2 linked regions of the Homo sapiens genome follow. The protein of the gene in region 1 purifies or fractionates together with the protein of each later gene. This does not show direct contact. Each region holds a gene or a part of one and is shown in the gene's direction. Other genes may lie near its edges.

What was found. Proteins that work in one complex are often made in the same cells at the same time.
Region 2: the proteins of FOXD4L1 (region 1) and CT45A2 purify together in Homo sapiens (affinity purification with mass spectrometry, with the first as the bait; one large-scale study listed by BioGRID). This does not show direct contact.

The regions. Positions count from the first base shown.
Region 1 is NC_000002.12:113,497,417-113,501,464, forward strand, and holds FOXD4L1 (forkhead box protein D4-like 1), read left to right. Parts: upstream 1-1,248; 5' UTR 1,249-1,840; coding exon 1,841-3,067; 3' UTR 3,068-3,734; downstream 3,735-4,048.
Region 2 is NC_000023.11:135,817,213-135,821,418, reverse strand, and holds the start of CT45A2 (cancer/testis antigen family 45 member A2), read left to right. Parts: upstream 1-1,406; 5' UTR 1,407-1,645; exon of another isoform or gene 1,646-1,662; intron 1,663-4,206.

The DNA.
Region 1 (4,048 bases):
CTAATTTTCATGAAGCCAATCTAAAAATCGTGTTACTTCTAAGGATGTGGAGCGAGTGAGATGAACAGTTGTGCTGTCATATTGCCCCTCCCCAGTGCAGACAGTGAATGAGGACCCACTGATTTAAAGGCAACACTGCAGCCCCTTCTTGCCTCATTGAAGTCCCAAGTTTTATTACAGTAAAAGCACTTAATGTTGACATTTCTGAAAGAATGAAGAGGCCGGGCGCGGTGGCTCACGCCTGTAATCCCAGCACTTTGGGAGGCTGAGGCAAGCGGATCATGAGGTCAGGACATCGAGACCATCCTGGCTAACACGGTGAAACCCCGTCTCTACTAAAAATACAAAAAAATTAGCCGGGCGTAGTGGCGGGCGCCTGTGGTCCCAGCTACTCGGGAGGCTGAGGCGGGAGAATGGCGTGAACCCGGGAGGCGGAGCTTGCAGTGGTCCGAGATTGTGTCACTGCACTCCAGCCTGGGCGACAGAGCGACAACGTCTCAAAAAAAAAAAAAAAAAAAAAAAGGAAAAAAAGAATGAAGAGCCAGAGCCAGGCATAGTGGCACGCCTGTAGTCCCACCTACTCAGGAGGCTGAGGCGGGAGGATCACTTGAGCCCAGGAATTCAAAGCCAGCCTGTGCAACATAGACCCTGTCTCTAAAAATGAATTGGTTATAAAGGATGAAGAAAGGAAGGAGGAAAGGGAGAGAGAGAAGCCCTTATAGAGTGGGTGCATTTCTTGTATGTGGGGCCACTTTGTAAGAACAGGATTTTTCAAACTGGGCCCATACTGGTATGTGTGAAATCAATTTAGTTGGTTATGGCCATTTTTTTTTAAAAGGAAATATCAGTGATCACTATAGTGTAAGTATATTGTTTCGTGAAAGCCATCTTAGTTATGTATTATGTCTGTATGTGTAAGATTGTGATATAAAATGTATTTCTGTGGTTAAATATTCAAAGAAATTGGAGAACCATTGCTACAAGGGGACAGAGGACTCCGTGTGAGCTCTCCTGCCTTCCCTGAATAAACTTACACAATTTAGTGCTGGGACATTTGAACCTTTTCTGAAAATTTGAGTCAGGGGAGAGCATCTTGGGGAGGTGGGAAGGAAGGTAGAAGGAGCAAAGCAACACCCCCCTGAAGCCTGGGAATATTGTCAGAACCTTAAATATAATTCAGCTCACCATTCTGGGTAAGGACAGACTCTACCAATGAAAATGGGTGATTACCAGCTGTGAAACACAAAAACATACTTTTACGGTTACACATTCCTTTACAAACAACCGTGTACATTTCAGCCTCCTGCCCCACCATTTCTTTTCTCCAGGAGGGAAGGCTGCATGTCGAGATGGTCGTAGAATGTTGAGTATCCTACTTTCCTACCTCGCTTTTATTTGCGCGGGTTTAAATGCGCCTTAACAGAACCCGTGCAAAGGCTTGCCTACTTGTCTGGCTGCACCGGATGAGTAGAGCATCTTCCTTGGTGGCAGGTGGGTGCGAGGAGGAGGGGGCTGGGCTTTTCTCCGGACGGTGTTTGCCCAGAAGACCATCATCCCTGGACTACGTTAGGAGGAAGTGGCACCGCTCCGAGGTAGGGGAAGAAGGGTTATAAAGGGGGGAGTCCACCACACATGGTCTTGAAGAAGCTTTTATAAAAGGCAAAGGCATCTTTGCCGGACGTTGTTGCAAAGGAGTAGAAACAAGCAGAGGAAAACATCCCAAAGGGTAACCACTAGCGTTCCTGCTTCTTGCAACATTCATCCCAGGCTTCCAGCTCAGCCCGCCCCGGGCCAGGTGATCGGCCGCCACATCCCCTGCGACTGAAGCACCTGCTCCGCCATGAACCTGCCAAGAGCTGAGCGCCCTCGCTCCACACCGCAGCGCAGCCTCCGGGACTCCGATGGGGAAGACGGTAAAATCGATGTCCTGGGAGAGGAGGAAGATGAAGACGAGGTGGAAGACGAGGAGGAGGAGGCGAGCCAGAAGTTCCTAGAGCAGTCGCTCCAGCCGGGGCTGCAGGTGGCCCGGTGGGGCGGGGTTGCGCTTCCCCGAGAGCACATCGAGGGCGGCGGCCCGAGCGACCCCTCAGAGTTTGGCACCGAGTTCAGGGCACCGCCAAGGTCTGCGGCGGCCTCTGAAGATGCCCGGCAGCCGGCAAAGCCCCCCTACTCGTACATCGCGCTCATCACCATGGCCATCCTGCAAAGCCCGCACAAGCGCCTCACGCTCAGCGGCATCTGCGCCTTCATTAGTGGCCGCTTCCCCTACTACCGCCGCAAGTTCCCCGCCTGGCAGAACAGCATCCGCCACAACCTCTCGCTGAACGACTGCTTCGTCAAGATCCCCCGCGAGCCGGGCCACCCAGGCAAGGGCACCTACTGGAGCCTGGACCCCGCCTCCCAGGACATGTTCGACAATGGCAGCTTTCTCCGGCGTAGGAAGCGTTTCAAGCGCCACCAACTGACCCCGGGAGCCCACCTGCCCCACCCCTTCCCTCTACCTGCTGCACACGCCGCCCTGCACAACCCCCGCCCAGGCCCTCTGCTTGGGGCCCCTGCCCTGCCGCAGCCAGTCCCGGGGGCCTACCCCAACACCGCCCCCGGGAGACGCCCTTACGCTCTGCTGCACCCGCATCCTCCTCGCTACCTACTGCTCTCGGCCCCCGCCTATGCCGGGGCACCGAAGAAAGCAGAAGGCGCGGACCTGGCGACCCCCGGCACCCTTCCCGTGCTGCAGCCCTCACTTGGTCCTCAGCCTTGGGAGGAGGGCAAGGGTCTGGCGTCGCCACCGGGAGGCGGATGCATCTCTTTCAGCATTGAGAGTATCATGCAAGGGGTCAGGGGAGCGGGTACAGGGGCTGCGCAGAGTTTGTCCCCGACCGCGTGGAGCTACTGCCCCCTGCTCCAGCGACCGTCAAGCCTGTCGGACAATTTTGCAGCAACAGCAGCAGCATCAGGAGGAGGACTGCGCCAACGGCTGCGCTCCCACCAAGGGCGCGGTGCTGGGCGGGCACCTGTCGGCCGCGTCGGCGCTGCTGCGGTATCAGGCGGTGGCAGAGGGCTCTAGGCTGACATCGCTGGCTGCCCCTTTGGGCGGAGAGGGGACCTCACCAGTTTTTTTAGTATCGCCCACGCCCAGTTCCCTGGCCAAGTCCGCAGGGCCCTCCTAGAGCCAGGTGGGAGTGGGGAGCGATCCGCAGCTGCTCACTCCACCTTGCGCGGCCCATACTGGGCGTGTGCATCTGAATCCTGCTGGAGAGCAAACACGAACTTCTGTTCCCTGCAAAATGGTTAGAAAGAAACAGCTGGATTACGTTCCTCTAAAAACCACCTGAACGTAACCTTCGCAGGGCGTCAAGTCATCTTTTCTTGCCTTCGGCTGTGGCTTCTGTGGCTTTCCGGATTTGCACATTTCCTGGGGTACTATGAACGTGAGTGGGGTATTTTGTTCTGGCATTAGAAGAAAAACAAGCAAGCAAACAAAAACACAGCCTCCGATGCCAAACATGTTCCCCCTTCTTCACTTCCTTGGAACTGGAAGTGTTATTCCTAAGTCTAGTGCAAAATGCTTCTACTCTCTGTGTCTTCCTGATAGGGATGTTTAATGTAAGTAGGATATTAATTTCAGAACATTGATTTCTTATCTGTGTGTCTGACGTGCCATCTTTAATGTTAAAATTAAGGTGTTAAAATTAAGCCTAGTTATATAGACGAAATAAAATGCTAAGTCACTACACTACATCGTTATTTTCTATTACGTCTCATTCTTCCCTTTCTAAATGGAACTTTTTAAAACCTACATTATTTTCCCTCAAACAATTTATTTTCACAATTCATATTTATTATAGATAGCAGAAGTAATCCATTTTAATATGGCCTTTAAAAATTCCAAATATTTGAGGTTGAAAATGTCCTGGCTTTTAAAATAGGAAATTTACTATTTATGAGACTTCTAAAAGAAAAGAATAGGAGGGCATGTAAATATATTCTCCATTTATTTTTCCTCACCCCCCAACAAGCTGGAAAACCGTTTGAGATCAATTTGGAA
Region 2 (4,206 bases), on another chromosome or scaffold:
GTGGAAAAATATACAAAGTTCCAGATTAAAATGATTAATAGATGCAATATAATAAGGTTTCCCCTCCTTCCATCCTTTCTTTCTTTCTCTCTTTCTTTCTTCCTTTCTTCCCTTCTTTCTTCCATCCTTCCTTTCTTCCTTTCTTCCCTTCTTTCTTCCATCCTTCCTTTCTTCCTTCCTTTCTTTCTTTCGTTCTTTCTTTCCTTCCTTCCTTCTTTTTTCTTTCTCTTTCTTTCTTTCTTTCTCTCTTTCTTTCTCTCTTTCTTTTTTTTTGTAGACAGTCTTACTCTGTCACCCAGGCTATAGTGCAATGGTGCGAACAAAGGTCAATGCAGCCTCAACCTCCTGGTGTCAAGCCTCCCGAGCAGCTGGGACCACAGTTACACGCTCAGCTAATTTTTGTATTTTGTGTTAAGATGGGGTTTCACCATGCTGCCCAGGCTGCTCTTGAACTCCTGGGCTCAAGGAATCCACCCCTCTTGGTCTCCCAAATTGCTGGGATTACAGACGTGAGCGACCGCACTGGGGCCCTCATTTTTCTTATCAATTAACAATAATGGTTACCTTTAACAGATAGAGGTTGACTTTATTTATTGATTGATTGATTTTTATTTTTAGACAGAGTCTCACTCTGTTACCCAGGCTGGAGTGCAGTGGCATGATCTCAGCTCACTGCAAATTCTGCCTGCCCGGTTCAAGCGATTCTCCAGCCTCAGCCTCCCAAGTAGCTGGTGGGATTATAGGTGCATGCCACCACGCCCGGTAATTTTCTGTATTTTTAGCAGAGACGGGATTCACCATGTTGGTCAGACAGACTGGTCTCGAACTCCTGACCTCAGGTGGTCCAGCCCCTTCGGCCTCCCAAAGTGTTGAGATTACAGGCGTGAGCCACTGTGGCGGGTCGGGGTTGACTTTAAAACACAACCCCCTCAAATGAAAATTGCAGTTTGTTGTTGTTCTTTTTCTTTTTCTTTTCTTTTCCTTCTTTCTTTCTTTTTTTTTTTTTTTCTGAGATGGGGTCTCCTCTACCGCCTGGGCTGGAGTGCAGTGGCTCACTGCTACCTCCACCTCCCGGGTTCAAGCCATCCTCCCACCTCAACTTCCCGAGTAGTTGGGACCACAGGTGCGAGGCCACTAGGCCCAGCTAATTTGTGTGTTTCTTTCTTTCTTTCTTTCTTTTTTGATTAGTTGGTTGCTTTGTAGAGCCGGGGTCTCACTATGTTACCCAGGCGATTTCATCCCGCTGGGTGAGAAGGTTCTGCATTCCTCCGCATACGTTGCTGTGCAGTTGTTACTGAAGGTCGCCTGTAGAGGGCGCCAGAGTCAGCGAAGGGGAGGGCTGCGCTTCCTGGTTCTCTGGGGCACGAGGCTTCTCCTCAGCACTCTGGCGCCCCCAACAGGTTCCCAGTGTTCGGCTGGGGCAGGCACGCTGTGGCTGGCTACTTCCCTTCCTCCCATCCCCCTTGGGCCAAACGGGATCGGTGCTTCTGGTGAGACGCCTCCCCATGCACATCACTCCCAGGTGCCCTAGGGGGCACATTTCCCACAACTCCCAGAGGGCAGGTTTCTAGAAAGTGCCACCAGTGGGGAGGCGCCACAACTTCACTGCCATTTTGTGAGGTGCCGCCGTCTCTCCTCCAGCAAGGTCAGGACTTCAGGACTGTGAGTGGGCAGTTTTTCCCTGGATGCTTTAATTTCGCCCTGGAAAGTGTCCTTTTTCCTCAGAAAGAGTCTTTTCTGTGGTGTTCTCTGTCCGGTGTGTGGGAGGGCTCCCTTGGGGAAGTGGCTTAGCTCTGGGGACACCGCCATGGGCGCCTGTGTCAGCCGCGGGGGAGCGTTTTCCTTGGGCACCCCGTCTCGGCTATGTTGTGGGGCCAGGGGGCTTTTCTTGGGGGCTCTTGTTGGGGGCTCCCTGTCGGTGATGGAAAAGGCGACTTTTCCTGCTGAAATGACCTGAGCCCGGGGGGTGGGGGCCATGCCTTGGTTGCCTGTGTCGGCCTCGGGTGCGGCGGTGTTTCTTTCCCGCTCAGTCGCTGTCCTGAGGGGGGACTCTGCCCTGGGGTCACTATCTGTGCTCATGGAACGTGGTGGGGGTGGCTGTGCCCCGGACACATGATCGTAGCCCTGTGGGGTCACTGTCGGGGGCTTTATCTCAACCTCTGGTGGACTCTTCCTTGGGTACTGATGTCGGCCGTGAGGCGCATTTGTCCTCGGATGTTGCTCGCTCTCAGTTACAATGTGTTGGCTTTTCTTTGGTTCTGCTTATCCCCGTTGTGGACGCTTACTGGATGCTTTCTCTTGGTGCTGGGTTTTTAAAATTATTATCTGTAGGTGCTCTCTCCCGGTGCCGCCGGGGAGTGGGGTAATGTTCCTTGGATTCTCTAAGCCTATGGTGGGACTCAGGGAGCTCTGTGTCAGCCATGAAGGAGGCCACGTGACCTTGGGAACTCTGTCTCGACCCAGGTTGGGGTGCTTTTCCTCGGTTGGTTGATCGCAATTCTGAAGGAGCTCTTTCCTGGGATTCTATCTGACCTTTCAGCCACAGCCTCAGGTGTCTGTGTGGGAATGGGAGTCCAGAAATATTCGAAGGTTCCAGCTGTGCCACATTCGAACACTCGCAGTACAGTTAGTCTTTCATTCCAGCCACTCTGATGGGTGTGCAGTGATCTCTCCTTGTGTCTACACTCGCATTTCTCTGCTGATTAATGAGATCGAGCACCTTTTTAAGAAATTGTTTTTATTTATTGATTTTTGTTTGTCTTTTGAGATGAGGTCTCCCTCTGTCACCCAGACTGGATTGCAGTGCCACCACACCCAGCTATTTATTGTTTTCTTTTTTTTTTTTTTTTTAGCACCATTTTATGTGTTTATTGGTCATTTAACTATGCCTTTTATGAAGTTCCTTTTCAGGTATTTTCCCCCAGCTTTTACTGAGATGTTTGTATTTTAAAAATGGATTTGTAGTTTCCATATATTCTGTATTTGAGTTATACGCACAGGCACACAGGCGTATATGTACATATACAAAAATACATATACAATTTTAGTATCTTCTATAAATCTTTTTTGCTTTTACACGATCTCAATAATGTGTTGTAGATGAACAGATTCTCTTAATTTTATTAATTAGTGTATTATTTATGGATAGTGCTTTTTATTATTTTAAGAAACATCTTTGACTCACCCAATGCCATTACGATAATATTCCTTTTCTTAAAATTATACTTTAAGTTCCGGGATACATGGGCAGAACGTGCAGGTTTGTTACATAGGAAGACACATGCCATGGTTGTTTGCTGCACCCATTGACCCGTCATCTACCTTAGGTATTTCTCTAATGCTATCCCTCCCCTAGCCCCCCAACCCCTGACAGGCCCCACTGTGTGATGTTCTTCTCCCCGCGTCCATGTGTTCTCATTGTTCAACTCCCACTTATGAGTGAGGACACGTGGTGTTTGGTTTTCTGTTCCTGTGTTAGCTTGCTGACACATGTCCCTTCAAAGGACATGAACTCATTCTTTTTTATGGCTGCATAGTATTCCGTGGTGTATATGTACCACATTTTCTTTATCCAGCGTCGTGGCAGGCGCCCGTAATCGCAGCTACTCAGGAGGCTGAGGCAGGAGAATTGCTTGAACCTGGGAAGTGGAGGTTGCAGTGAGCAGAGACTGTGCCACTCCACTGCAGCCTGGGTGACAGAGCGAGGCTCCGACTCAAAAAAAAAAAAAAATGTCTTCCAATGCATGGAAAGAAAATTTTTCTCCATTTACTGCAGTCTTGAATTTCTCTGAGTGATGTTTTATAATTTTTGTGAAGTACTCTAGCACATCTTGATTAGATTTATTCCTAAATATTTGATGTTTTTGGAACTGTTTTTAATGACATTTGAAATCTCATATTCTAATTATTCGTTATACAGAATTGCCATTCTGTATAATGCCATTCATTATACAGAATTGCTATTCATTATACAGAAATGCCATTGGTTTTCATTGTATCTAGTAAGTTGACTAAATTTGCTTATTAACTGTAATGATTTTATTCTTCTGCATTTTTCTATGTACAGAACAATGTCATCTGTGAATAATGACAGTTTTATTTCTTTCCAAATTTTAAACCTATTGTATTTTCCTGATGATATGGCACTTTTTGGAACCTCCAGTAAATTGTTGAATGGATAGTGGACATCTTTGTCTTGTTTTCAAA